Regions from separate parts of the Homo sapiens genome. Here region 1 is linked to region 2. A link means that fine-mapping ties the variant in region 2 to the plasma level of a protein whose gene starts in the linked region. Region 2 holds a variant in brackets. A gene starts in the other region. All regions are shown on their reverse strands.

Region 1 (13,426 bases), not on the chromosome of region 2:
ATTTGAACTATGCTATTGCATTCATGCACTTTCTGTAAGTGATTTTTATGATTAGTATGCTATTTTTATATTCATGGTTATTATAATTTAAAATATTTTTATATGCTATAACAATGTCAACTCATCTTTTATTAAGTGGTTGTGTTTGTGTTAATGCTGAAAAACAGCTGAAAACAAGCTAGATGTGGTATGCCAATTCAGGAAAGGACACTGATAATAATAATAGCAGTTAATACATTTTGAGTGCTACATATTTTTCTAAATGATTAATATGCATTACCTCTTTTAATACCTAGTTTATAACAGCCCTATGAAAAAGGGGTCTGAGACCAGCCTGGCCAACATGGTAAAACCCCATCTCTACTAAAAATACAAAAATTGGCTGGGCGTGGTAACACATGCCTGTAATCCCAGCTACTTGGGAGGCTGAGGCAAGAAAATCGCTTGAACCCAGGAGGCGGAGGTTGCAGTAAGCCGAGATCATGCCACTGCACTCCAGCCTGGGTGGCACAGAGAGACTCCATCTCAAAAAAAAAAAAAAGTACTATTATTATCCCCAGTCTATAGATGAGAAAATAGCCTCAAAAAGTTGAGGTAACTTGTTCATAAATAACTGAATGTGGGCTGGGCACAGTGGCTCACGCCTGTAATCCCAGCACTTTGGGAGGCCAAGGCGGCAGGATCACCTGAGGTTAGGAGTTCAAGACCAGCTTGGCCAACATGGCTAAACACCATCTCTACTAAAACTATAAAAATTAGCCAGGCATGGAGGCACGCACCTGTAATCCCAGCTACTTGGGAGGCTGAGGCAGGCGAATCACTTGAATCCAGGAGGCAGAGGCTGTGGTGAGTCGAGATCACACCACTGCACTCCAGCCTGGGCTACAGAGCAAGAATCCATCTCAAAGATAAATAAATAAATAAATAAATAAATAAATAAATAAATAATCAAGGGTGGATTTGAACACAGGCTGACTCTAGAGCCTTCCCTATTAACAACTATGCTCTACTGTGTTTCTAATGCTGAGAAAATGAAAAGCAACATTAAAAAATAATAACAGATAAGGATTTATGAGCTCCAAGAACACATTCCTTTTACTTTACCCATATTCCTGAGGGAAAATTAGTCTTTCTTTACATATGTTAAATGAATTAATGGAAAAGAAGGAAAGAATATTCCAGCTACTTGGAAATTAATTAAAATACAGTAGCCCCCTCACCTTATCCTTGGGGGATATGTTCCAAGACCCCCAATGAGTGCCTGAAACTGCAGATAGTACTGAGCCCTGTATATATTGTATTTTTTCCTGTACATATATACCTATAAAAAAGTTTGATTTATAAATTAGCCACAGTAAGAGCATCAACATTAATATATAGAATAATTACAACAATATTCTGTAATAAAAGTTAAGTGACTGTGTAGTCTCTCTCTCTTCAAATATCTTATTGTACTATACTCACTCTTCTAGTGATGCTGTGAAATGATAAAATGTCTATGTGATGGGATGAAGTGATGGAGCAAGATGATGTGAGATTTCATCATGCTACTCAGAAAAGTGCACAATTTAAAACTTATGAATTATTTCTAGAATTTCTCATTTAATGGGGGACTACTGTAAAGACTTTCAAAGGTTTTAAAGACTAGTCATGGTTGTTAAAGAATTTAAATGCAGGATTATATCTAAATAAATATATAATTTCAAGATAAAATGCAAATGATAATTCTCAAAAAAAGAAGTTGAATAAGATAAAATAATAATCTAAAAGTAATAAACTGGCTATAAATTCCCCGATTATACCAACTTTTATTGGTAAAACTAGGAAATAGGAGAAAATTCTTGAAAGAAAGTTACAGTGATTTTCTCATGTTACAAAGACAGGAGCTAAAAAAATATTATTGATGGTTGATGTAAATAATTAGAAAAATTCAGGTAAAAATCTTTTTAAAGAATTTTAAGAATTAATATCAAAATGTAAAACAATGTATTCCTTTCAAATTACTTAAGGAAGGCCAAGCACCGTGGCTCATCCCAGTAATCCTAGCACTTTGGGAGACCAAGGCAGGAGGATTGCTTGAGGCCTGGAGTTCATGGCTGCAGTGAGCTATGATTGTGCCACTCGACTCCAGAATGGTGACAGAGTGAGACCCATCTCATTAAAAAAAACAAAAATGGCTTCAAAAAGTTAAATAAAATATATTTAAAGTTAGAAAGAAATCAAAGAAAACATAAAGAATCAGCAAGGAAGCATTTTAAAAATTACAGATTACCAGTTATACAGTAAATATATTTTATTAAGCTTACCCATTAGAAAGCTCCTTTGATATGATTTTCTTAAACATCTACAAGTGACACACTTAAAACAAAGATTTAGGAAGCTTAAGAGGAAAAGATAAAGACAAAAAAATAGGAATTACATCAAAGTAGAATCTCAGAGGTAAAACTATCACATGAGCAAAGAGGATCACTTTTTTTTATGATCCCTAATACAACTCATACAACTTCATGTACTAAGTAACAGTGCTAAAATATATATAAAGTAGCTTTCCACCATGGCCACCATTGGAGGGCAGCAGCCATGACACTGCACTACCCTATAGCTGTGGGCCTCAACAAGGGCCACAAGGTGACCAAGAATGTGAGCAAGCCCAGGCACAGCCACTGTGGGCGCCTGACCAAACTCACTAAATTTGTGTGGGACATGATCCCAGAGGTGTGTGGCTTCACCCCTAACGAGTGGCGTGGCATGGAGTTACTGAAGGTCTCCAAGGTCAAACAGGCCCTCAAATTCATCAAGAAAAGGGTAGGGACAAACATCTGCACCAAGAGAAGGCAGGAGGAGCTGAGCAACGTCCTGGCTGCCATGAGGAAAGCAGCTGCCAAGAAGGACTGAGCCCCCTGCCATCTGCCTATAATGAAAGCTTTGCAGAATAAAATAAATATAAAATAAAGTAATAAAATTAAATTAAATTTAAAAATAAAATAAAGCAAAACAAAATAAAATATATAAAGTAAAAATTGTTGAAAATGCAAAACAATATGGACATAAATACAGAAACACAGGGAAACTTCTTTAGGCACTCATTTACAGGTAAAAATATGAAATTGAATAAAGGTCATCTGGTGTCAAATAATATAGGCCTTATCTATTATAAGAGTTTGGACTGAAAAGCAAAAGTGAGATAATAAAAAAAAGCTTTTCAGAATATTATTTTGTATAGATATGTGAAGGATGAAGGGTGGGTGAAAGGACCAAAAACAGAAACACAGTCTTCCTGAATGAATGACAATCAGAATTCCGCTGCCCAAAGTAGTCCGACAATTAAATGGATTTCTAGGAAAAGCTACCTTAAGAAGGCTGGTTACCATCTGGGTTTTCACAGTGCTTTCACATTCTTATCACTTTCAACACTACTGCAAATAGGAAGGGACAGTAACATTTAGAAGAGAACAAAACAGAAACTCTTGGAAGCAGGAAAGGTGCATGACTCAAAGAGGGAAATTCCTGTGCCATAAAAGGATTGCTGGTGTATAAAATGCTCTATATATGCCAATTATCAATTTCCTTTCATGTTCAGCATTTCTACTCCTTCCAAGAAGAGCAGCAAAGCTGAAGTAGCAGCAGCAGCACCAGCAGCAACAGCAAAAAACAAACATGAGTGTGAAGGGCATGGCTATAGCCTTGGCTGTGATATTGTGTGCTACAGTTGTTCAAGGTATGCAGTAATTTTTATTTCTCAACCTATAAGTTCCTTTTCTAATGTTTCAAATGTCTTTTCTTCCACTTTTATCCTAAAAGACATGATAAAGTTTTATTTAATCTCACAGATTAGAAGTTACTACAGCTTTAGCACAGAAATGGTGGACATGTTTAAGATACTAGAGATGATTATTGAAACTAGAAATTATGAACTTCATGGAATTTTTGATTTGGCTAGAATATCTGGCAAAAGCCTTTAGCAACAGTTTTAAATGTCTGTTAAGAAGATTTTATATAGCGATCATGTTAACAAGCTTCCTGGGAAAATATTTGAGGATAAAATCAAGGGGGCAAAACAAGCTTCACCTCCAATAAACTTCCTTCATGCTTCCCATTTGTTAGCGATTTGCTTACTAATTTAATGAGAAAATAATCAACATCTTACTTAACTTTTCCCAGTAACAGTTGTGTTAAGTGCTATTTGACAAATTACTATCTTTACCCTTAATGAAAATTCTGCTCACGTTCACCACCAGCTATAAACCACAGCCATCTGTTGCAATCAGATGCATTACTAACTAATGCTATGATCTATTCTAGGCTTCCCCATGTTCAAAAGAGGACGCTGTCTTTGCATAGGCCCTGGGGTAAAAGCAGTGAAAGTGGCAGATATTGAGAAAGCCTCCATAATGTACCCAAGTAACAACTGTGACAAAATAGAAGTGATGTAAGTAATGAACTTGCTGAAGATGACAATGGTGCAGGCTTTTTTGTTTATGTATTTGCATCTAAACTTTAAGACTCTTGTATGTTCTTTTAACAGTATTACCCTGAAAGAAAATAAAGGACAACGATGCCTAAATCCCAAATCGAAGCAAGCAAGGCTTATAATCAAAGTAAGTTACCAAATTACTCCCATGTTATAATCTGTTTTATCCAAGACAGATCTTTTGAAAAAGAAAATAATGTGGACAACTACAGAAAGATTCTGCTATGATCCTGTGTGAAATATTCTGTTAAGGGGTCCTTGGTTGTAACAGCTTCCCCTTCTTACTACATGTTTTTAGATGTCCTGGGGGAAACAAGAACAGCCCAAGTAAATAAAACTCTTGTTTTCTTATTCCAGAAAGTTGAAAGAAAGAATTTTTAAAAATATCAAAACATATGAAGTCCTGGAAAAGAGCATCTGAAAAACCTAGAACAAGTTTAACTGTGACTACTGAAATGACAAGAATTCTACAGTAGGAAACTGAGACTTTTCTATGGTTTTGTGACTTTCAACTTTTGTACAGTTATGTGAAGGATGAAAGGTGGGTGAAAGGACCAAAAACAGAAATACAGTCTTCCTGAATGAATGACAATCAGAATTCCACTGCCCAAAGGAGTCCAACAATTAAATGGATTTCTAGGAAAAGCTACCTTAAGAAAGGCTGGTTACCATCGGAGTTTACAAAGTGCTTTCACGTTCTTACTTGTTGCATTATACATTCATGCATTTCTAGGCTAGAGAACCTTCTAGATTTGATGCTTACAACTATTCTGTTGTGACTATGAGAACATTTCTGTCTCTAGAAGTCATCTGTCTGTATTGATCTTTATGCTATATTACTATCTGTGGTTACGGTGGAGACATTGACATTATTACTGGAGTCAAGCCCTTATAAGTCAAAAGCATCTATGTGTCGTAAAACATTCCTCAAACATTTTTTCATGCAAATACACACTTCTTTCCCCAAACATCATGTAGCACATCAATATGTAGGGAGACATTCTTATGCATCATTTGGTTTGTTTTATAACCAATTCATTAAATGTAATTCATAAAATGTACTATGAAAAAAATTATACGCTATGGGATACTGGCAAAAGTGCACATATTTCATAACCAAATTAGTAGCACCAGTCTTAATTTGATGTTTTTCAACTTTTATTCATTGAGATGTTTTGAAGCAATTAGGATATGTGTGTTTACTGTACTTTTTGTTTTGATCCGTTTGTATAAATGATAGCAATATCTTGGACACATCTGAAATACAAAATGTTTTTGTCTACCAAAGAAAAATGTTGAAAAATAAGCAAATGTATACCTAGCAATCACTTTTACTTTTTGTAATTCTGTCTCTTAGAAAAATACATAATCTAATCAATTTCTTTGTTCATGCCTATATACTGTAAAATTTAGGTATACTCAAGACTAGTTTAAAGAATCAAAGTCATTTTTTTCTCTAATAAACTACCACAACCTTTCTTTTTTAAAAAAAGATCTATATACTTTCCAGGACATTTGAGATGCCTTTAACAATTTTGCCTTATATTTCAGAAACATACACCTATCCGTCATCATGAAAAACTGTTTAGAAATATATTTTAATGGGTAGGTGGGAAAGACAGTTGTTTCTTTTGTCGGCCTTGGGGGGTCTTGATAGTCCAAACCCCCTTCTTACTTGGAGAAAATCCCTTATGTGAGTGTTGGTGGGAGGCCAAAAGAGAGAAGCCAAAGACAGGAGATCCTCTCCTGTAGCCACAACAAGGACTCAGCCATGCTGTTTCTACCCTAGACTTTGAACTCCAGCTGGCATCACAAAGATACTATTAGTAAGAAAATTATTTCAAGCCTGGCAGCAGCAGGAGAAACAATGAAAGTCTTACAGTAGTGTCTTCCCAATGTGTGTTCCTGTAGCATGACTCTGGCTAGTCCTTCCTATCACCTAGTTCCCTTAGGTCTTTGTCCATTTTCCAAGACTTATTCTCCATTGTCCTGTGGATTCTTCAACCTCCAACTAAATTCTTTTTCTCCTTAAGATAGCCAGAGTTGGTTTCTCTGCATGTAACCAAAAGCCTTGACTGATAGCAGTACTCTCTATATAGGCACCCATACATTTGAAAAATAAAAATATTTATTATAGGATTATAATCAGATATATCTATATTGCATTATTATATAGGTTATAGATACAATATAGATTTATAATAAATTGTTATATAAATCTATATAAATATCTATATAGAGATGGGACTTCCATATAAATTCCCTGGATAGTTTTAAGACCTGAATCTGGCTGGGTGCGATGGCTCACATCTGTAATCCCAGCACTTTGGGAGGCCGAAGCGGGCGGATCACCTGAGGTCAGGAGTTCAAGACCAGCATGGCTAACATGGTGAAACCCCATTTCTACTTAAAATGCAAAAAATTAGCCGAGGCTGCTGGCACGTGCCTGTAATCCCAGCTACTCAGGAAGCTGAGGCAGGAGAATCGCTTGAACCCGGGAGGCAGAGGTTGCAGTGAGCTGAGATCATGCCATTGCATTCCAGCTTGGGCAACAAGAGTGAAACTGCACCTCAAAAAAAAAAAAAAAAAAAAGACTTGAATCTAATCTTTGACTACTTACAGTGATTTTTTTTTTAAGTCTCTTTAAAAATAAAAATTCACATAGTCAGCTGGGCATGGTGGCTCACACCTATAATCTGAGCACTTTGGGAGACCAACATAGGTGAATGGCTTAAGCCCAGGAGTTCAAGACTAGCTTGGGCAACATAGCGAAAATTCATCTCTATAAAAAATAGGAAAATTAGCTGGGTATGGTGGCACATGCCTGTAACCTCAGCTACTTGGGAAGCTGAGGTGGATGGATCACTTGGGTCTGGGAGGTTGAGGCTGCAGTCAGCTGTGATCACACCACTGCACTCCAGCCTGGGCAAAAGCCTGCCTCAAAAAAAAAAAAAATTCACAGAGTTAAGGCTGCATGATAAATTGGTATTTGTAAGAAGTATATTAAATATTATAGGCCAGTACATTATTACTGAGAAGAAAACATACACCTAAAGTTCTTCATAGCAAAATAAATATATGAAATATTAATAATTAACATATTTGAGCCAAGATCCTCCCCACCTTGGTACCTTTGCACATACTATTCTCTCTGCCCATTTCTTCACTAAGCTAATGCCTACTAATTGCTTAGGTCTCAGCTTAAATGACTTTTTCTCCAAGAAGCCTTTGAAACCACCACTTCAGCTTTAACTAGATTAGGTGTCCTATTTATTTATTTCCATAACACTCTCTATTTTTCCATCATACTACTTACTGCAATTGTAATTAATGAATTATTCCTGTGCCTAATATCTGCTCTCTCATAAGTGTAAAAGAAAGCTGCTGTAGCCCAGGCCAACAGTACAGTTTCTGGTGCATATCAGACCCTATTGAATGGCAATATAAACTAAGGGAAAAGGAATTTACAGCAGAGGAATGACACAAGGGAATGTACAGTAGTAGGAAGTATAAAGTGATTTTTAGGAATCATAATTAGATTCGTTTGGTTGGAAGGATGAAGGACATGAAACTGTAAATAACCTTGAATTTTACTCTGTACAAAATGGGGATTCAATAAATGTTTGTGAAGAAGAGAGTGACCCTATCAAAGTCATTGGAAAATATTCTGGGAATTGCATGAATGGTTGATTGAAAGTGGGAAAGAGTGGAGGAGGAAAATCAGTTGGGATTTGCTGCAATAGCTGCAATATCTCAGGTCTGTATTTCCAAAACTTCAAGGCATTCTCATATCATCTTTACAATTTTTTTTTAACATTTCTCTGTTTGATCTTCATTATATTTTTAGAAACTCTGTATACCACTTTATTTTACGTACATTTACATGAAAAGTAAACTTTCACTACTGTACATGTAAAATCGGTAATACATGCCATGGAAATAAAATGTAATGATAAAACAAAATACAATGAAAAAATACTAATATTCCCCCTGATTTAATTAATCAGAGGGATTGAAGTTAAGAAGAGAATAATTCACTGATACTAAACGTTATTATCAATGTACATGGTAGTGTCCCACACTTTGGGAAACACTGGTGTGAAAAGTAATGGGGCTGGCTCTGCAATAAGTTAAACATAATTATAGTAATTATATATTACTATATAATCCAGCAATTCCATTCCTAGGTATATACCCAAAAGAACTGAAACAGCTCTTTAAACAAAAACTGGTACACAAATGTTCATAGCAGCATTATACACAACAGCCAGAAAGCAGAAACAACCCAAATATCCATCAACAAGTGAATGGATAAAATGTGGTATACACACACAATAGATTATTCGGCCATAAAAAGGAATGAAGTACTGATACATGCTACAACATGGATGAACCTTGAAAATATGCTAAGTAAAAAAAGCCAGACACAAGGGACCACATATTGTATGATTCCATTTTATAGGAAATATCTAGAGTAGGCAAAACCATAAAAACAAAAAGCAAATTAGCTGACTGGGGTTTGGGGGAGGTGTTAATGAGGAGTAACTACTTAATGAGTATGGAGTTTCTGGGTGATGAAAATGTTCTGGAACTAAATTATGGTGATGGCTTCACAGCACTGTGAAAGTACTTAACTCCACTGAATTGTACTCTTTTAAATGGTTAAAATGGTAAATTTTATGTTATTTGTATTTTACTATCATAAAAAGAAGAAGGGCTACACTAAGGTGGTATTGGTAAGAGTAGAAATATAATGACAAGTACACTGTACAAAAATAATCAAGACAGTGATAGATTGGATGTGAAAGTTGAAGCTGAGGCCAGACACGGTGGCTCACGCCTGTAATCCCAGCACTTTGGGAGGCCGAGGCGGGTGGATCACGAGGTCAGCAGTTCAAGACCAGCCTGGCCAACATGGTGAAACCCCGTCTCTACCAAAGATACAAAAAATTAGCTGGGCATGGTGGTGCATGCCTGTAATCCCAGCTACTCAGGAGGCTGAGGCAGGAGAATCGCTTGAACCCGGGAGGTGGAGGTTGCAGTGAGCCGAGATCGCGTCATTGCACTCCAGCCTGGGCTACATAGAGCGAGACTCCATCTCAGAAAAAGAAAGTTGAAGATGCAAAAAAGAAACAAAGAACATGTTAAGGATTTGAGTCTGAATTTAAAGCAGAGAAGAGACAAGGAAAAAAGGCTGAACTTCTGAGGTCTGAAAGAATAGTTCTGTCACTAACAGAAATAGGGATATGAGGGGGAAGATGTAGTTTAGCAGAAAAAACTGCAGATTCGATTTTAAATACATGGAACTTAAGATGCCAAACACTCACAGTGACTTAAAATTTCAGGACTGTTTCCTCTAATTAGCCAAGAAGAGCTTTCAAACAAATGGAGTAGTTTTGGATAATGCTATTAGAAAAGGAAAGATTATACTTAATTATTTTTGGCTACTGAGTACAGGACCTAATATGCCCACATGGAATTAATATACCTCTTTGTATCTATTTCTGAAAAGATTTTCATAGCCAACAATTATAAATCTTTATGATATGGTCAGCACATTCTGTGGATTATAAGTAGTACACACACAAAAAAAACTGTTAGGGTTTTTTTTGGAGAAGGGGTGAATGAGGCAATTTTAGTTGCTTCTTCTTGCCTTGTCTGCAAATTTTATTAACCAGACACTGGTAATGAAATTGAGCAAGTCTGAGATTATCACATAACACTGAAACCATAGTTTCACTTAAGTACCTAAGAAGAATACGTCCTAAAAATCCTGGCACCATAAGTACAGATGTATTCATAGTTCCTTAGTGCTGCTCAATAAACTGCTACTAAATTGGAAATGCCCTAACGTGAATTATAGACTCTATATAATAAATCCTGACTTAGCATTCTTCTTCAAATTGTTCACAAAGACAAACTGTCAATAAGAAGTTGAAGAAAACTGAATGATAATCTAAAATATGGAATAACAGGCACTACTGAACTATATCATATCTCAAGATTCCTCTTCTCAAAAGAAAAGACAACCAATGATGAATCAATTAAAATTAAAACTAGACATTTTCTAAAGATTTTGATTAAAAATGGAACAAAGTATCACAAAATTCTAATTTATTTTGTTGAAATATCTTATTTATGGGAAGGAGAAAGAAATGCACCATACTTCCCCCAAACACATTTACTTTATTATAATGTCCTCCAATTTTGTCTCTTCCTCCAAATGATGAAATCTGCCATATTTGTAAAAGTCCTCTCAAGTGCGCGAGTTCAGAAACACTGCATAGCCTAAAATGTATCCAAACAGAAGCTATTCTGAGCCTCTGCCTCCTCCAATGCCATGATGATTGTTAGGGTCTACCACCCACTTTGCCAGCACTCAGTTTGCCCTCTGCTTAGGCTGGCTATGAAGGATGAGACACATGGGTAATTGAAAAGTATGTAACCAGTATTACCAAACACTGTGAGCTCGGGGAATCTTTTGAGAGCTCAGAGTGAAAACTGTGAAGGGGAAGCTTTGCCCTGCTCTCCCATACTTTCCAAGGCATATTCTGCACCAGCTGAGGGGATTCCCAGTCCACAGAAATCACTGATGTCCTCCTGCTCACTTTTTAGAAAATTTCTTCTAAGCATAACAGTTTCCGGGAAAGCATTTTTGCCTTCGTCTGTGCTCATTAGTTTGTCAGGGCAGACTGTTCCTTTTTTCATTGTTGTCTTTTTTGGCCTGATGCCATAATCACAGGCTTAAAGATAAATCAATAGCGACTGAAACGGAAACTAAAGCGGGATACTTCCTTAACTTTCATTTTCTTTCAAAATTATACTCAGATCAGTGAATTCTAGGAACGTGATTATACCATAAACGTTGCAAAAATTGAGAGAAATATATAAAAAGAGTTATCATTTAGATTTTTATTCAAATGACACATGCAGTCTTGGCTTTGGGTGAAATAAGTAATAGTGGGCTTGCTACTGTCTCTAAAAGTTTGATTTTTTTTTTCTAAATGATTTTCCATGTTGATCACATTTGTCAGGTTTCTACCCTGAGCAGAACCCTCATTTAAAACAAGAAGAGAAGGGTCCTTCGTTTGACTCTGCTCACCAGGTACTGTTCTGATACTAATTCAATTTCCTAGGCAATCTGATCTTGGGAAAGGGGTGACTTGGATACCAAAACCAATCATCCTAGTCACTGAAAAGGTTCTCATTGTAAATGGATACACTGTCTTTTAATTTTCATCTTAGTCTATCTGAGATTTGGTTAGCAGAGTTAACTCTCTGAGAATATGCTTACCCTGGATGATTAGGAAAAAATGAGAATTTCTGGACTGGAAAAACTGAGGACCAGATTTTATAGAATCCTAACACGGCATTATCACCCCTATGAGTCTACCAATCTTCCTGACTGGTTGGTTGGCTTCCCCCTTTACCATTTTTTGATGACATTTATCTGTCATCAAATGTAATGGATTGTAATGGATACACTGTCTTTTAATTTTCATCTTAGTCTATCTGAGATTTGGTTAGCAGAGTTAACTCTCTGAGAATATGCTTACCCTGGATGATTAGGAAAAAATGAGAATTTCTGGACTGGAAAAACTGAGGACCAGATTTTATAGAATCCTAACACGGCATTATCACCCCTATGAGTCTACCAATTTTTCTGACTGGTTGGTTGGCTTCCCCCTTTACCATTTTTTGATGACATTTATCTGTAATTGCACAAGCTTTCCTCTCCTGGCCACTTACTTAAGTAACATTCACACTTTATGGCTCATCTGAGGTCTTTTTTTCTGAAGGATCTTCTGAAAACTTCTGACCTTAATGAGTACAGTCTCCTATGAACCTCCACATTATTTATTTTCTATACCACTCATTTGGTACTGATCATAAAGTTTCTTTTTTTCTTTTCTTTTTTTTGAAACGGAGTTTCGCTCTTGTTGCCCAGGCTAGAGTGCAATGGCGTGATCTCGGCTCACTGCAACCTCCGTCTCCAGGGTTCAAGTGATTCTCCTGCCTCAGCCTCCTGTGTAGCTGGGATTACAGTCGCCCACCACCACGCCCAGCCAATTTTTTGTATTTTTAGTAGAGACAGGGTTTCACGATGTTGGCCAGGCTGTTCTAGAACTCCTGACCTAAGGTGATCCACCCGCCTGGGCCTCCCAAAGTGCTGGGATTACAGGCATGAGCCACCTTGCCCGGCCCATAAAGTTTCTCTTATTGATATTTATTGTTTCATAGTTTCTGGTCTTCCCAATTAGAATGTAAACCCATCAAGGATAAATATTGGATCTCAACCCTTCTAGTATTCCCTGAGATTAGCTTAGTTCCCTACACAAAGTGCACAGAAAATAATGAGAACAAGCCTACTTCTCCTCCTTCTTCTAACACCATCCATGGCCATATACATGATATGCACTGAGGATATTTGCATTCCTGCATTCATTCATTCAATGCTTAATTACAGATAAAAAAACAGCAAATAACTAAGAAGCTTTTAGGGGTACCACTCTATATTTACCAGAGTTCCGGAATGAAGAGTCTGTCCTATAGCTAGCTGAGAATATCTGTATTGATTTTACCTACTTAAATCTAAACTAACTTCTGGGGAAATTATAGTCTTCTTAAATTAAACTTGGTTCTTAAAGCTAAGGAAAACAATAATACTCATGTCCAGATTCAGAAATCTGATGAACAAATGGAAATACTTCTTGAAATACAATCCTGGTATGCTGTCACTTAAAGTCTGTAAAGATTCATTCAACCATCCTTCTATCCAATATTTACCAAATGCCTCTCATATGCATTTTAGTTCCCTGTTCTCCTGGGGCATACATTTTAGCATGGAGAAACAGACATTACACTAATTAAAAAAAATGAATGAACTGAATATCAGATAGTATGAAATGCCATGTAGAGAATTAAAGTCATGTCTGCTTCAGATTGTGTGACAAG
Region 2 (16,240 bases):
AACAAAATCACTTTTTTTTTTTTTTTTTTTTTTTTTGAGATGGAGTCTTGCTCTGTCACCAGGCTGGAGTGCAATGGCGTGATCTTGGCTCACTGCAACCTCTGCCTCCTGGGTTCAAGCAATTCTCCTGCCTCAGCCTACCATGGTGTGTACCACCATGCCCGGCTAATTTTTTTTTTTGCATTTTGGTAGAGATGGGGTTTCAACATGTTGGCCAGGATGGTCTCGATCTTCTGACCTCATGATCCCCCTGCCTCGGCCTCCCAAAGTGCTGGGATTACAGGCATGAGCCACCGTGCCTGGCCCAGGAACCAAATCACTCTTACAGTAACCTATTCCAACAATGAAGCTGTCCGGCTTCTAGGACCACTGAAAATTAAAGGAAATCAGTGAGAACGAAGGAATTGAGTCTTCACAGCAACAGGAAGGGCCTGCCAAAGAGAAGAGAGAAAGGTACAAAAGTTTTTACAGGCAGGAACTGCCTAGCGATGGGGCAACAGTATGATGGGCTCAATGATTCCCAAATGTGTTCCTACCTTGCCATATAATGCCACCATGACCCTTTTAAATTTTTTCCTTTTATTATTATTTGATACACGGTCTTGCTCTGTCATCCAGGCTGGAGTGCAGTGGCACGATCATAGTTCACTGCAGCCTCTGCCTCCCAGGCTCAAGTGATCCTCCCACCTCAGCCTCCCAAGTAGCACCATGCCTGGCTAATTTTTTATTTCTTTGTAGAGACAGGGTCTCACTATGTTGGCCGGGCTGGTCTTGAACTCCTGAGCTCAAGCAATCCTCCTGCCTTGGTGTCCCAAAGTGCTGAGATTGCAGGTGGGAGCCACGGTGCCCGGCTGATGACCCATTTTCAAGCAAGAATTAAGTAGCTTAAAGAACCAAAAGTATCTAATACATGGTGACTTCTTTATAATTGTTCCTGAAATGTCTTCAGCCCAAACTCAGCTATTTAGAAAGGTTAGGTCATTTCCTCAGGATTCTTAATACTATAAAGTTTGAGTCATTAACTGACATAAGATCGGGGAGGGGAGAGAGAGATTGAGAGAGAGAGAGATTTGTAGAGGCAGGGTCTTGCTCTATTGCCCAGGCTGGAGTGCAGTGGTACAATCGTAGCTCACTGCAGCCTAGACCTCCCTGGCTCAAGGGATCCTCCCACCTCAGACTCCCAAGTAGCTGGGACTACAGGAGCATGCTACCATGCCCAGCTAATTTTTTGGTAGAAACAGGGTCTTGCTATGTTGTCCAGGCTGGTCTAGAATTCCTGGCCTCAATGATCCTCCCACCTTGACCTCCCAAAGTGCTGGGATTATAGGCACGAGATACCATGCCCAGCCTTGTTTTAATTTTGATTTCCCTCAGTATGTAGACTTGGGGATGAAGGCTTTAATGGCTTATAGACAGGTTTCATTAATAGTGGAAATGGGCCATGCACAGTTGCTCAGCCTGTATTCTCAGCACTTTGGGAGACTGAGGCAGGTAGATCACTTGAGCCTAGGAATTCAAGAGCAGCCTGGCCAACATGGAGAAACCCCATCTCTACTAAAAATATAAAACATAGCCGAGTGTGGTGACACATGCCTGTAATCCCAGCTACTTGGGAGGCTGAGGCACAAGAATGGCTTGAACCCCAGAGGCAGAGGTTGTAGTGGGCTGAGATCATGCCACTGCCCTCCAGCCTGGGTGACAGAGTGAGACTCCATCTCAAAAAGAAAACAAATATATAAATATATATATAAATATAGTGGAAATGATCAGGGCATCTAGGACATGGGCAGTCCCCTAATCGTCCCCAACACCATCTATCCTAGCCACCACCGAAAAGGCCTGGGTACATTCAGGAAGCAGCCATATTCTTCAGGAAATCATCAGCATCAATGAAGATGTGTTCAGACTTAGGGCAATGGGATGCTTTGCTGGGGTGTTTTTATAGCTGAGAATCCTGACCTGTCAAGGTTGTGCATGGTCTTGCTTTATTTTGGAGGGAAGATCAAATTATTTTCTAGAAGTGGTATAGCAGAAAACAGAAGAGGAGGTAAACAGAGCTGAGATGATTTACTAACTGTGTGATCTGAACTTTTCCAGCCTATTGTATCTGTAAAAATGAAATTGGATGCTTTGAAACATGTTTGACAGACTAAATGTGACATCCCCACTCCTGGTTCTAAATGCTCCAATTTCTTTTCCTCACTAGCTGAGGCGACAGCAGAGGATGGCGGTCAGTCTGGAGCTCCGAAAGGCCAAGAAAGATGAACAGACCTTAAAGAGAAGGAATATCACGAGCTTCTGCCCTGACACACCTTCTGAAAAAACAGCCAAAGGGGTGGCGGTCAGTATGTAGTGTTTAGAGTAGTCTTGGGCAAAATATGTTCTTAGCAAGTGTCTCTGGCTGGATAATATTTAATAGATTCAGAACTTGCAAACTCTCGTTTTGGGCTTTTAAAGAAAGGAGTGAAGAGATTATGGTTTGAGCTAAACTGCCTTTGTCAAAAGGCTAATGGCCATTACTCCTATGGCTCTGAGTCTGTGGAATCTAGATTCTAGTGGGGGATGGAGAGGATTTTTATTATACTTTTTATTTTTATTTTTTGAGACAGGTCTCACTCTGTCACCCAGGATAGAGTGCTGTGGCACAATCAGAGCTCATTGCAGCCCTAATCTCCCTGGGTTCAAGCGAACCTCCTGCCTCAGCTTCCAGAGTATGTGGGACTACAGGCACTCACCATCATGCCTGGTGAATTTTTTATTTTTTTATAGAGACAGGATTTTGCCATGTTTACCAGGAGGGTCTCGAACCCCTGGACTCAGGTGACCTGCCTGTCTCAGACTCCCAAAGTGCTGGGATTACAGGTGTGAGCCCCTGTACCTGGCCAAAAAGGTGATATTTCTAATTGAAAATTTACTTGCTATCCCTAAGCCTGAAAACCGAGGAAATGAGGGTTGGTGAAGGTTATTTCTCAGTAGAGGCATCTAGTCCCTGGATGGGTGAGGTCTTTCCTAACACTTTGACTTCTGTCCTGTCTTCCCTTCTCCATCTACCCCAACCTTATTAAATGCAGATCCTGGGTTGACTTCAAGGTTAGTCCGGTTTCTGTGAATACCGAATGCCTTGACCAGGAAGTTTTCCTTCTTAGCACCTCAATAATGGTGTCTCTATATTCTTTTGGGGTACACCACTGTCTGTCCTACCTTAACTACCCACATGCACCCTTTTTACCCTGCTTGGTTTAGGTCTCATAGAGGGCAGAGACTGGTTCCATTTTTGTCAAATTGGGTCCAATGATGTGTTCCCATTCATCAATGAAATGTGTACAGTCATTCTGAGTTGCCATAGGAGTCCAAACTATATCTCTAGTTAGCTTCATTTGTTTGGAGCAGTCCCTAGAATCCCCCCATCCAAGGATGGTATAAAACAAAAGGGAAAAAAGGCCAAGCACAGTGGTTCACACCTGTAGTCCTAGCACTTTGGGAGGCCGAGGTGGGTGGATCACCTGAGGTCAGGAGTTCGAGACCAGCCTGGCCAACATGGTGAAACCCCATCTCTACTAAGAATACAAAAATTAGCCGGGTGTGGTAGTGGGTGCCTGTAATCCCAGCTACTCAGGAGGCTGAGCAGGAGAGTTGCTTGAACCTGGGAGGCAGAGGTGGCACTAAGTCAAGATCGTGCCACTGCACTTCAACCCATGGGTGACAGAGTGAGACTCCATCTCACTCCAACAAACAACCCCAAAAAGTTGTTTTTCTTTTGGTCCCATATTAGCTTTTTTTTTTTGAGACAGAGTCTCACTCTGTCGCCCAGGCTGGAGTGCAGTGGCACGATCTTGGCTCACCGCAACTTCCGCCTCCTGGGTTCAAGCAATTCTTCTGCCTCAGCCTCCCGAGTAGCTAGGACTACAGGTGCCCACCACCACACCCAACTAATTTTTTGTATTTTTAGTAGAGACGGTTTTTTACCATGTTAGCCCGAATGGTCTCAACCTCCTGACCTTGTGATCTGTCTGCCTCAGCCTCCCGAAGTGCTGGGTTTACAGGCATGAGCCACTGTGCTTGGCATATTAGCATATTTTTTAAAGAAATGAAGGTATAATTCACATCAAAATTCACTCTTTAAGTGCCTAATCAGTGGTTTCTAGCATAGTCACAAAGTTGTGCAACCATTGCCACTAGCTAATTCCAGAACCTATTCATCACCTCAAATAGAAACTCCAGTCATTCAGGAGTCACTCCCCATTCCTCATCCCCCACCGTCTCTGCAAACACTAGTCTACTTTCTGCCTCTCTGGAATGACCTGTTCTAGACATTCCCTAGAAATGCAATCATATAAACATGTGAGCTTTTGTGTTGAGCTTTTATGTTTTCAAAGTTCATCCATGTTGTAGCATATATCAATACTTCATTCCTTTTGGGCAGAATGATAATCTGTTATATGGAGAGACCACATTTTGTTTATCCATTTATTTGTTTATAAGATGGAGTCTCACTCTGTCACCCAGGCTGGAATGCAATGGCACAATCTCGGCTCACTGCAACTTTTGTCTCCCGGGATCAAGCCATTCTCCTGCCTCAGCCTCCCGAGTAGCTAGGATTACAGGCATGCATCACCTGCTAATTTTATATTTTAGTAGAGATGGGGTTTCACCATGTTGTTCAGGCTGGTCTCGAACTCCTGACCTCAAGCAATTTGCCTGCCTTGGCCTCCTAAAGTGCTGGGATTACAGGTGTGAGCCACCGTGTCTGGCCTTGTTTATTTATTAATTGGGGGACTTTGGGTTGTTTCCACTTTTTGGTTGTTATGATGAATGCTGTTATTAACATCTGTGTACAAGTTTTTGTGTGGAAGGGTGTCTTCAGTTCCACTGAGAATAACTGGGTTATGAACTAAGCCTGTTTCACTCTTTGTGGTAGGCTGTATCGTGGCACCCCAAGTGTCTGCATCTTCTAGTCCCCAAACCTGTGAATATTACTCTATGAGGAAAGGGATGTAGCATATGTGATTAAATTAAGGATTTTGAGATAGAGAGGTGATACTGGATTATCTGGGTGGGCCTGGCATTCGATGATTCTTATAAGAAGAGCAATGTGATGACAAAAGCAGATGCCGGGCATGGTGGCTCATGCCTGTAATCCCAACACATTGGGAGGCTGAGGCAGGAGGATCACTTGAGCTGAGGAGTTCGAGACCAGCCTGGCCAACATGGTGAAACCGCGTCTCTACGAAAAATACGAAAATTAGCCAGGCCTGATGGCTCATGCCTATAATCCCAGCATATTAGGAGGCTGAGGCGGATGGATCACTTGAGGTCAGGAGTTCAAGACCATCCTGGCCAACATGGTGAAACCCTGTCTCTACTAAAAACATAAAAATTAGCTGGGTGTGGTGGCATGCACCTGTAGTCCCAGCTATTAGGAAGGCTGAAGCAGGAGAATAGCTTGAGCAGTGAGCTGAGATTGTGCCACTGCACTCCAGCCTGAGTAAGAGAGCGAGACTGTGTCCCCCCACCAAAAAAAAAATTCCAGCCCTTTGTCCATTTTTAAGTCAAATAAATTATTTTTTATTGAGTTGTAAGAATTCTTTATATATTCTAGATATTAAACCTTAGCAGATATGACTTGCAAATATATTCTGTTCTGTGGGTTGTCTTTTCACTTTCTTGATAGTATCCTTGGAAGCATAAAATTTTTTAATTTTGAAGAAGTCTAGTTTATTTTCTTGGTTGTTTGTGTTTTAGGTATCATATCTAAAAATTCATTGCCTAATCTAAGGTCACAAAGATTTGTGCCTATATTTCTTTCTAAGAGTTCATAATTTTAGCTCTTACTTTTAGGCCTTTGAGCCGTTTGGAGTTAATTTTTGTAAATGGTGAGAATGGGAGTCCAACTTTGTGCTTTTGCATGTGATACATAGTTGTACCAGCACAGTTATTTGAGACTATTTTCTACCCATTGAATTGTCTTGGTACCTTTGTCAAAAAAATCAATTGACCGTGAATGTGAGGGTTCATTTGTGGACTCTCAGTTCTCTTCCATTGATCTATACGTTTATCTTTGTCATCAAACAAAGGTTTGATTACTGTAGCTTTGTGGTAAGTTTCGAAATTGGGAAGTGAGTCTTCCAGCTTTGTTCTTTTTTTCAATATAATTTTGGCTATTCTGGACCCTTTGTATTTCCATATGAATTTTAAAATCAGATTGTCAATTTCTACAATAAGGGCAGCTCCGATTTTCATGGAGATTGCATTGAACCTATAGAATGGAGTCATTGAATTTATAAGGTTGGAGTATTGCCATCTTAACAATGTTAAGTCTTCCAGTCCATGAACATGGGATACCTTTTCATTTCAGTCCTTTTTTTTTTTTTTTTTTTTTTTCAGTTTGCAGCATATAACTCTTGGATTTCTTTCAATAAATTTATTACTAAGCATTTTATTCTTTTTATGTTGTAAATTAAATTGCTTTATTTTGATTTTTGATCACTGCTAGCATGTAAAGATACAATTAATTTTTGTATATCAATTCTGCAACCTAGCTGAATTTTATTAGCTCTAGGCTTTTGGTGTAAATTCCTTAGGATTTTCTACATATAAGATTAAGTCACTTGCAAATAGTTTTATTTCTTCCTTTCCAATCTGGGTGCACTTTATTTGTTGCCTAATTAATGCATCTAGAACTTCCAATGCCATGTTGGATAAAAGTGAAAAGAGCAATATCCTTGTCTTATTCCTGATCTTGGGGGAAATCTTTTAGACTTTCACCATTAAGTATGAGGCTACCTCTGAGTTTTTTGTAGATGCCTTTATCAGAATGAAGAAGTTTCCTTTTATTCCAGTTTGTTGAGTGTTTTTTTTTATTATGGAAGTATGTTGAATTTCATTAAATGTTTTTTCTGCATTGAGATGATCATGTGGGTTCCCCCCCCTTTATTAATACGGGGTACTATGTTGATTTTTTTTCACATGTTAAACCACTCCTGAATTCCTGAGTTAAATCCTAATTCATCATGATGACCAATATGTTGACCATATGTTTCATACGTTTAGGCATTTGGTTTCCTCCTATTTTGTTGAATTTTTGCATCAGTAGTTATAAGGGATATTAGCTTATACTTTTCTTGTAATATCCTTGGTTTGGTATCAGAGTAATACTAGCCTCTAAGAATGAGTGAGAATTTTTTTTTGTAAAGTTGGTAAAGTTTTTTTGTTGTTGTTTTTTTTGAGATGGAGTTTTACTCTTATCACCCAGGCTGGAGTGCAATGCTGCAATCTTGGCTCACTGCACCTCAGCTTTTTGGCCTTGATGCTTTCTGATAAGAAATCAGCTGTTAATCTTATTGAGGCTTTGTACATGAATTGCTTCTCTTTTGCTGGTTTCAATGTTTTTGATTCTGTAGTTTTGGCTTTCAACAGTTAGATTATAATATGTCTGGATCTTGGGATTTATTCCGTTTGGAGCTCATTGAACTTTTCAGATGTGTAGACTAATTATTCTATTGGATTTGGGAATTTCTTTGGCCATTATCTCTTTAAATATACTTTCTGCCTCTTTCCCTCTTCTCCTTCCTATTCTGCATTTGTTGGTATCCTTGATGATGTCCCACAGATCTCTAAAGATCTGTCAATTTTCATCTTCAGTCTCTCTTGTGTGTGTTATCTTCCTCAGACTGGATAATTCCAATTAACCTATCTTCAGCTTCACTGCTGCTTTATTATGTCTGCTTAAATCTGCTGTTAAGCCCCTTTAGTGAATTTTTGTTTCAGTTATTGTATTCTCCAATTCCAGAATTTGTATCTGGCTCCTTCCAATAACTGATATCTGTTCACTGATATTCTCTATTTAGTGTGACAGCATTGTTGCACTTTAGTTCTTTAGTCATGGTTTAGTTCTTTGACTATATTTAAAATCTTTGTCTAGTTCAACATCTGGTCTCCTCAGGGACTATTGCTATTGATTGCTTTTTTCACATATATATGTATATGTGTGTGTCACACTTTCTTTGCTTGTCTCACAATCTTTGTTGAAAACTAGTCATTTAAAATAGTGTGACAACTCTAGAAATCAGATTTTCCATTGCCCCAGGGTTTGCTGTTGTTGCTGGGTGTGCTCGTTTAGTAGTTTGAGCTAATTATCTAAAATCTGTATTTTTTTGTGATGTGTGGCTGCTGCAGTGTCTGCTTGGTTTGCTCAGTGGTCAACTAATAATTAGAGACTTATTTTAACACTTCGAACCACGAAGAAAAGAACACTCAATTTTTGCCAAGAAGCTCTGTGTTGGGGGCATGCGTTCACCACTCAGCCAGGCAGTTGACAATTCTGACGTAAGCCTTCACTTCCTGTTTGCACAGAGCTTCAAAGTCAGTGAGAGGGAAGAGCTGAGGGTCTTAGTTTTGTTGTTGTTGTTGTTGTTGTTGTTGTTGTTTTTAAGCATATGCATAGCCCTATACATGACATTCCCTTTCAAGTTTTTTTGTTAGCCTGTTGTTTATCCCAACTCTTATTCAACCTCTCAGGTAGCTGTGAAGTTAAACAACTTCCTCTGTTTTCAATGAACATTCTTAGGGAAAAGCCTTTTCATACTGACTAAGCTCTGAGTCAAAATAGTCTGTAAGTGGGATCTTTCAGGGAATGACCAGACAGATCAAATAATAATTTTCTGGGAATGAGGCTCCAAAGGAGGACCTACCTATTTTGCCTCTTCTGGTGGTTGGGAGGCTGTTGGTTTTTCACAATGATTGTGGACTGTTGGTTTTCAGGGTTACCATGGAGCTGAGGGTGGGTGGGAATAGGGCAAGTCAAAATGCCACAAAGCTCTCATGCTACTTACTGAGATTCAGCTGTCTTTCTTGGATAAACACTTCCTGGCTTGAATAAAACAATTGGCCGCAAGCCTTTGGTCAATTTCTACAGTGCTGAAAAAGTTGATTCTATTTTTGTCAGTTTTCTCTTTGCCTATGTGGAGGAGAGAATTTTTTGGATGTCCTTAGTCTGCCATTTTGTTTTGTATCCACTAGCACATTCTTACTGCACGGGATAAAAATGTTCTTGGGATCCAACTAATGATAGGAATTACTTCTCCCCTAAGCATGGGAAGGAACACACAGATCTGTGAGATCTGTGGACTATATTCTCCCCTCCCCAAATATAGAACAGCATGCAAGATGGGACATCCTGTTCAAGCCAGGCTGTTTTAATCAGATGGATGATGGCTAGAGTAGGTGATGTTTACAGCTCATTTTGGCAGACAGTCTGACCTGAATGTGTCTCTTCTTGCAGGTCAGCCTCACTCTGGGTGAAATAATCAAAGGTGTGAATAGCTCAGATCCAGTCCTATGTTTCCAGGCCACCCAGACAGCCAGGTATCTCCAAACAGACTTCTGCTGTTGCAGGTTCATAGTTAGCAATGAGCGTCAGTGATGGCTGGAGCGCCGGTGGCCTATTTGGTTTCTTGGCATTGGCAACATGCCCGTAAAACACAGGAAAAGGCTAGCCCATCTAAAAGACGAAATTGCTATTCTACACTGTCCTTGAGGGCAATTTAAAAGCTTCGATGTGTTGTCAGAGATGAATTGCTTAATTTACATTGGCCTCTACAGAAATTTCATCTTGTAGATAACACCTTAAAGGGGAAAATGTTGATTTAATACCGAAAAATGCTATCGGTTGAACACTAGGATCTTAAGTAGCTCCGGCCCAGCTATGTGGCTTATGTATAAAAGGAGGTTCTTTTTTTCTCTTTTGAGATGGAGTCTCACTCTGTCACCCAGGCTGGAGTGCAATGGTATGATCTTAGCTCACTGCAACCTCCGCCTACTGGGTTCAAGTGATTCTCCTGCCTCAAGCCTCCAGAGAAGCTGAGATTACAGGTGTGCACCACCACACCCAGCTAATTTTTATATTCTTAGTAGAGATGGGACGGGGTTTCACCATGTTGGCCAGGCTGGTCTCGAACTCCTGACCTTGCGACCTCAAGTGATCTGCCCGCCTTGGTCTCCCAAAGTGCTGAGATTACAGGTGTGAGCCACCGCACCTGGCCTAAAAGGAGGTCCTTAATACCTCTCTCACTTGACCTCCCCCTCC[C/T]CTGCCCTCTCTTTCATTGCATAGGAAAATGCTATCCCAGGAAAAGAACCCCCCTCTGAAACTGGTCATTGAAGCGGGCCTCATTCCCAGGATGGTGGAGTTCCTGAAGTCATCACTTTACCCCTGCTTGCAGTTTGAGGCTGCCTGGGCCCTGACCAACATCGCTTCAGGGACTTCGGAGCAGACTCGTGCCGTGGTAGAAGGGGGAGCCATCCAGCCCTTGATTGAGCTCCTGTCTTCCTCCAACGTGGCTGTGTGTGAACAGGCAGTGTGGGCTCTTGGTAATATAGCCGGTGAGACTCTCCCCTTAGTGGGCTAAGAAAACGGGGCCAGGTGTGTGGGATACTATAAGGTTTCTTTGGGTGGTGGGGTATACTCGATGTCCCAGAACACTTTGCCATGTAAATACCTAGAAGTGCTGGCAAGGGTACAATGAGCTGTTTCCAAACTCAAAGCCAGGCCAGGCACGGTGGCTCACGTCTGTAATCCCAGCATGTTGGGAGGCCAAGGCGGACGGATCACTTGAGGTCAGGAGTTCAAGACCAGCCTGGCCAACATGGTGAAACCCCGTCTCTACTAAATATACAAAAATTAGCCAGGCATGGTGGTGCATGCCCTGTAGTCCCAGCTACTCGGGAGGCTGAGGCAGGAGAATCGCTTGAACCTGGGAGGAGGAAGTTGCAGTGAACCAAGATAACGCCACTGTACTCCAGTGTGGGCAACAGAGGGAGATTCTGTCTCAAAACACCAAAAGCCCTCAAATCCAAGTTTAGAGGCCAAATATTGAAGCTGAAACAGGATGATACAGTGTATACTGAAGCCACAGGCTAACTAGAGACATCTGCCAACACTAAGGTCCTACAGCCTCAGGGCTTCGTGGCTTCAAGAACAAGTCTTTGGCTTATGCAGTGTGGGAGTTTATGATAGACCCTTACATAACTCGGGACCCCAGAAGGACTCTGCCTTCAGTGGAAGTTGCTAAGGGAACGTGCCAAAAACAAAAACAAAACAACAACAACAAAAAAAAACTCCTTGGTTTGGGCTAACAAGCCTTCCCTGAAAGTGGAATCCTCAGACTACCTTTCTGAATGTGGCAATCGATGCTCTTTCCTGCATGGTCTAGTGAATTAGTGCTGTAGGGTCGGAAGCCCCCAGATTCTTGGCTGACATCAATCCAGTGACTTTCTAGGGAAAACTCAATTAGGTCCCTCAGGATTTTGACAAATTAAGATCAGCCGACTATTAGCATTTTCAAGTTCAGAGAAGCAATAACTCCCGTGACTGAGTCAGCAGAAACAGTATGATTAGACCTCCAAGGACTCCACATATTGGAATTAGCAAACAGAATATAAAATAACTGCTAAAAGAAAACAAAAGCTTGCAGAGGCTTGGCGTAGTGACTCATGCCTTTAATCTCAGCACTTTAGGAGGCAGAGGTGGGAGGATGGCTTGAGCCCAGGAGTTTGAGACCAGCCTGGGCAATGTAGTGAGAACTTATCTCTACAAAAAATAAAAATATTCACCAGGCATAGTGGTGTATGCCTATAGTCCCAGCTACTCAGGAGGCTACGGTGGGACAATTGCTTGAGTTCTGGAGGTCGAGGCTGCAGTGAGCTATGATTGCACCACTGCACTCCAGCCAGGGCAATAGAGTGAGATCCTGTATCCCCCTCCCCCGCCAAAAAAAAAAAATAAAAGGCTGCAGGAGGAAAAAGTGCCTATTAGAGAAGTTGTCTCTCATTTTGCTTGGTGCAGTAAAGTAGGCAAGACTGGATGGTACAATGTGATGACTTGCCTTTGATGGTTGACAAATACAAATAGACTTCTAGGGTCTAAAATTGTTATCCTAGCTAAGGTAGCTGATGGCTGGTCACCAGCACCTGCAGATCCCCAGACTTTGTTCTGAGTTGCATTGGAAGTTACTGCCCTGTGCCAAGGTCTTCTGGGAAGACAACTTGGTCTGGACCAGCCTTCGTCTTCCTGAGAACCATGCTGTGAGATGCCAACAGCCCACCTTGGCTGAGTTGGCTGGCTCTGCTTCTAGCAGTTGCTGCTGTGTGATGCCTGCCTGTTACATCAGGACTGTCCACCCACCAGCCATGCCAGACTTCCAGAATTTAGTACGTGGCTCTACTACCTACTTGCTAAACCCGGGAATGAGTTTTTGTCTCTTGCCCTTTGCACACTCTTAAAAAATTAGTCACCCACTTCAGGATTGTCTTTGTTCTCTCTCTAAATGTCACATTCTGCTCTATTTGTAGGTGATGGCCCAGAGTTCAGAGATAACGTCATCACAAGCAATGCCATCCCACATCTCCTAGCCTTGATTTCACCCACCCTGCCGGTAAGTGTCTTTTTCTTTCTCTTTTTTTTTTTTTAAATTAAAATTTTAAAATAATCTTAATAGAGATGGAGCCTCACCATTCTGCCCAGGCTGGTCTTGAACTCCTGGCTTCAAGCAATCCTCCTACCTCTCAAAGTTCTGGGATTATGGACGTGAGCCACAGTACCAGGCCAAGTGGATGTCTTTAAATGAGAGAGAACCTCGTTAGGTAACAAATTCTAATGTTGGGAAATTGGGACATACTTCCAAATCCAATGCTAGATCATGTGGCTGCTGCCTGGCCTCTTAGAACCTCATAAACAAGGCTCAAGACTGGGCATGGTGGCTCATGTCTGTGATTCCAGTGCTTGCTAGGCCAAGACAGAAGGATCACTTGACACCAAGAGTTCAAAACCAGCCTGGGCAACATAGTGAGACCATGCTTCTAAAAATAAAAAAATTAGCTGAGCATGGTAGCGTACACCTGTAGTCTCAGCTACTCAGGAGGCTGAGGTGGAAGGATTGCTTGAGCCCAGGAGAGGGAGGCTGCAGAGAGCCAAGATCACACCACTGCACTCCAGCCTGGGTGACAGGTTGAGACTCTGTCTCTAAATAAACTAATAATAGCAAGGCTTAGGACTGAGTATCATTTTAGGTAAAGATTGACTCAGCTCTGTCTTTAGGGGCCAGTAGCACTGATCCTTCTCTTTGCGGCATTGGAAGAGGCCTACAAGCTTGCCATCTTGCAAAATAGATGACTGAAATCTCCATTCTAGGGTCACAGTTTAGCATATATGCCTGGTGTTCCATTATTGGAACACTAAGCCTGTGGGAGTTATTTATATCCTACTGCTCATGGTCATTACCAAGGTCTGATTTTTCACACAAAAAAATTTGCAACCTCTGGCATAAATGGGTTAATGTCTCACCAGTTCTGTTCATGGGGAACAGGCTCTTCTTTTGAGGCTTAGAGTCAAGGTTGGTTGATTTGTGGTTATTGATTGAAGAGGACTTCTGGTTTAGGAACTGGGTTCTCGATTTGCCTCAAACAAAAATGAAGAGCAGCCAGAGGACTATGTTCAAAACCTTCATCTGGGAACCGTGGCTCACACCTGTAATCCCAACAATTTGGGAAGCTGAGGCGGGTGGATCACCTGAGGTCAGGAGTTTGAGACCAGCCTGACTAATATGGCGAAATCCTATCTCTACTAAAAATACAGAAACTAGCCAGGCATGGTGGCACGTTCCTGTAGTCCCAGCTACTTGGGAGGCTGAGGCAGGAGAATTGATTGAACCTGGGAGGCGAAGGTTGCAGTGAGCCAAGGTTGCGCCACTGTGCCCCAGCCTGGGCAACAGAGCAAGACTCTGTCTCAAAACTCTTCAAGATGGGAGAAAAATCTGACATGGTTGAACCAATAAAAGACTAGCCATGACCGAGAGAGTTTAAGTAGAGAACACTTAAGATGGCAAGCAGGAAAAGGGCTTAGACATCTTCCTGCTAGCAGCAGGGAGGCTTTGGAGGATTTTGAGGCAAGGGAGTAGAGTGGTCTGATCTTTCAGAAAGGCCCTTCTGGTTGCCTGCCGTAGAATTATATAGCAGAGAGAGGCCGGATGCGGTAGCACTTTGGGAGGCCGAGGTGGGCAGATCACGAGGTCAAGAGATCAAGACCATCCTGGCCAACACGGTGAAACCCCGTCTCCTAAAATTACAAAAATTAGCTGGGTGTGGTGGCACGCACCTGTACTCCCAGCTACTCAGGAGGCTGAGGCAGGAGAATCTCTTGAACCTGGGAGGTGGAGGTTGCAGTGAGCCGAGATTGTGCCACTGTACTCCAGCCTGGTGACAGAGCAAGACTCCATCTCAAAAAAAAAAAAAAAATTGTATAGCAGAGGGAGATGGTGAAGCAGGTGGGTCTGGGACATAGCCATTCTAGACGTGAAAGGGAGACAGCAAGAAGCCAGGATGCCCCTAGGTTTCAGGTTAGATTGTTCAGATGATTGTCTTCCTAGAGAAAGGGGAAAAGTGCAGGAAAAAAAGAAATTGGAGCTTGTGTTGCAGGCATGAAGTTGAGGCGAGTTGGAGACACCATTGCAGCAGAGTCGGATTGACAGATGTACCTTGCTAGGTGACATATGTGTATATGTCACCCAGCCAGGCAAGGTCAGCTGGGGCCAGGGGTCACAAACATGACCTGGCTGGCCGCTTGCTTTGTAAATAGTTTTATCAAGCTGGGCATGGTGGCACGTGTCTGTAGTCCCAGCTACTTGGGAAGGCAAGGCGAGAGGATCGCTTGAGTTTGAGGCTGCAGTGAGCTGTGATTGCACCACTGCACTCCAGCCTGGGTGATGGAGTGAGACCCTGTCTCCCCCCAAAAAAAAAAAAAAAGTTTTACTGGCATGCAGCCACACTCATTTACATACTGTCTGGTCTACAAGGACAGTTGTTGTTGCCACAGAAGCCACAGGCTAAAAATGTTTAAGATCTGGCCCTTTACCGAAAAAGTTTTCAACCCCTGACCTAGAGTGTGAGGAGAGCCTGAGACCCAGTCCTGTGGGCTCTAAGGTTCTAAATTCAGGCAGAGCCTGCCAAAAAGACTAAGTAGAAACAGCTAATTTGGCCATAGAAAACCAGGTTTGGTGTCACAGTTGCCAAGAAGAGCTCTTTCTTTTTTTTCTGCTTTTTTTTCTGCTTTTTTTTTTTTTTGAGACAGAGTCTTGCTCTGTCACCAGGCTGGAGTGCAGTGGTGCAATCTCAGCTCACTGCAACCTCCGCCTCCTGGGTTCAAGCGATTCTTCTGCTTCAGCCTCCCGAGTAGCTGGGATTACAGGCACATGCCACCCCGCCTGGCTAATTTTTGTGTTTTTAGTAGAGACGGGGTTTCACCATCTTGGCCAGGCTGGTCTTGAACCCCTGACCTCATGATCCACCTGCCTCGGCCTCCCAAAGTGTTGGGGTTACAGGTGTGAGCCACCACGCCCAGCCGAGAGCTCCTTCAAAAAGAAAGGGCTGACTACTAACCACAGCTGAGAGGGACAGTAACTTTAGGACCAAGAAGCAGCTGCTGTGTTTGGTGACTTGGAAGGAGCTGATTCCCATCCCTAACCCCAAAGAAGGGTTAGAAACATGACTAGAATGGCCTGAAGAACAACTGGAGGCCAGGCGCTTATGTCTGTAATCCCAGCATTTTGGGAGGCCGAGGCAGGAGGATCCCTTGAGCCCAGGAGTTTGAGACCAGCCTGGGCAACATAGCAAGACTTTCCTCTACAAAAAGCATGTCTAGCCACAGCTACTCAGGAGGCAGAAGTAGGAGGATCACTTGGGCCTGGGAGGTTGAGGCTGTAGTGAGCTATGATCACGGCACTGCACTGCAGCCTGGGCAACAGAGTGAGACCCTGTCTCAACAAACAAACAAAAAACCCCAACAATTGGGAATCTGGGAGGTAGACAGTGAATATAGATGCCTCTCTGAGGGTAGACTCTGAAAGACAGAAGTGTGATGATGGCTGAAAGGGGCAGAAGGGGAGGGGCTGACAGTCCCAGGGTATGTTTCCTTACTGGTGGGAGTGATTTGGGGGCAGGGATGATTCTGGGCGGAATCTTTAAAGGCAAAAAGTAAGGGCCAGGTGTGGTGACTCAGGCCTGTCATCACTTTGGGAGGTGGAGGTAGGCAGATCACTTGAGCCCAGGAGTTGAAGTCCAGACTGGGCAACATAGCAAGACCCCTGTCTCTACTAAAACTAAAACTAATAATAAAAGGCCAAAAGGGATGGGATCCAGAGGCAGAGTAGGAAGACTGATTCTCAATTAGAAGATTAGAAATCTGGGGATGACA

Alleles and levels. Positions count from the first base shown, and alleles are read on the strand shown. Strength reflects both the effect of a copy and how common the allele is.
With allele C in place of T in region 2, the plasma level of the protein whose gene starts at base 3,575 in region 1 is lower (weak association).

The links. PIP is the chance, under the fine-mapping model, that this variant and not a neighbour inherited with it causes the effect. The UK Biobank Pharma Proteomics Project read protein levels with antibody pairs (Olink). The fine-mapping took linkage between variants from a reference panel, not from the people measured, so its PIPs are less certain.
Region 1: CXCL11 starts here. The variant in region 2 is fine-mapped to the plasma level of the CXCL11 protein (UK Biobank, PIP 0.99).

What each region holds. Positions count from the first base shown.
Region 1 is chr4:76,026,219-76,039,644 of GRCh38, reverse strand. It overlaps CXCL11 (C-X-C motif chemokine ligand 11), which reads left to right and starts at 3,575. Exons shown (of 4, transcript NM_005409.5): 1 at 3,575-3,718; 2 at 4,303-4,429; 3 at 4,526-4,598; 4 at 4,829-5,963. The coding sequence starts at 3,658. The coding sequence ends at 4,852. It also overlaps a transcript of ART3 not described here and the pseudogene RPL36P8.
Region 2 is chr7:99,189,207-99,205,446 of GRCh38, reverse strand. KPNA7 (karyopherin subunit alpha 7) reads left to right here. Exons shown (of 11, transcript NM_001145715.3): 3 at 2,207-2,341; 4 at 9,281-9,363; 5 at 10,109-10,377; 6 at 12,346-12,428. Among named protein-coding and RNA genes, the nearest start is that of KPNA7, 11 kb to the left of the region's middle. RefSeq lists a silencer at 14,447-14,741. The variant C/T (reference allele first, on the strand shown) is at 10,085.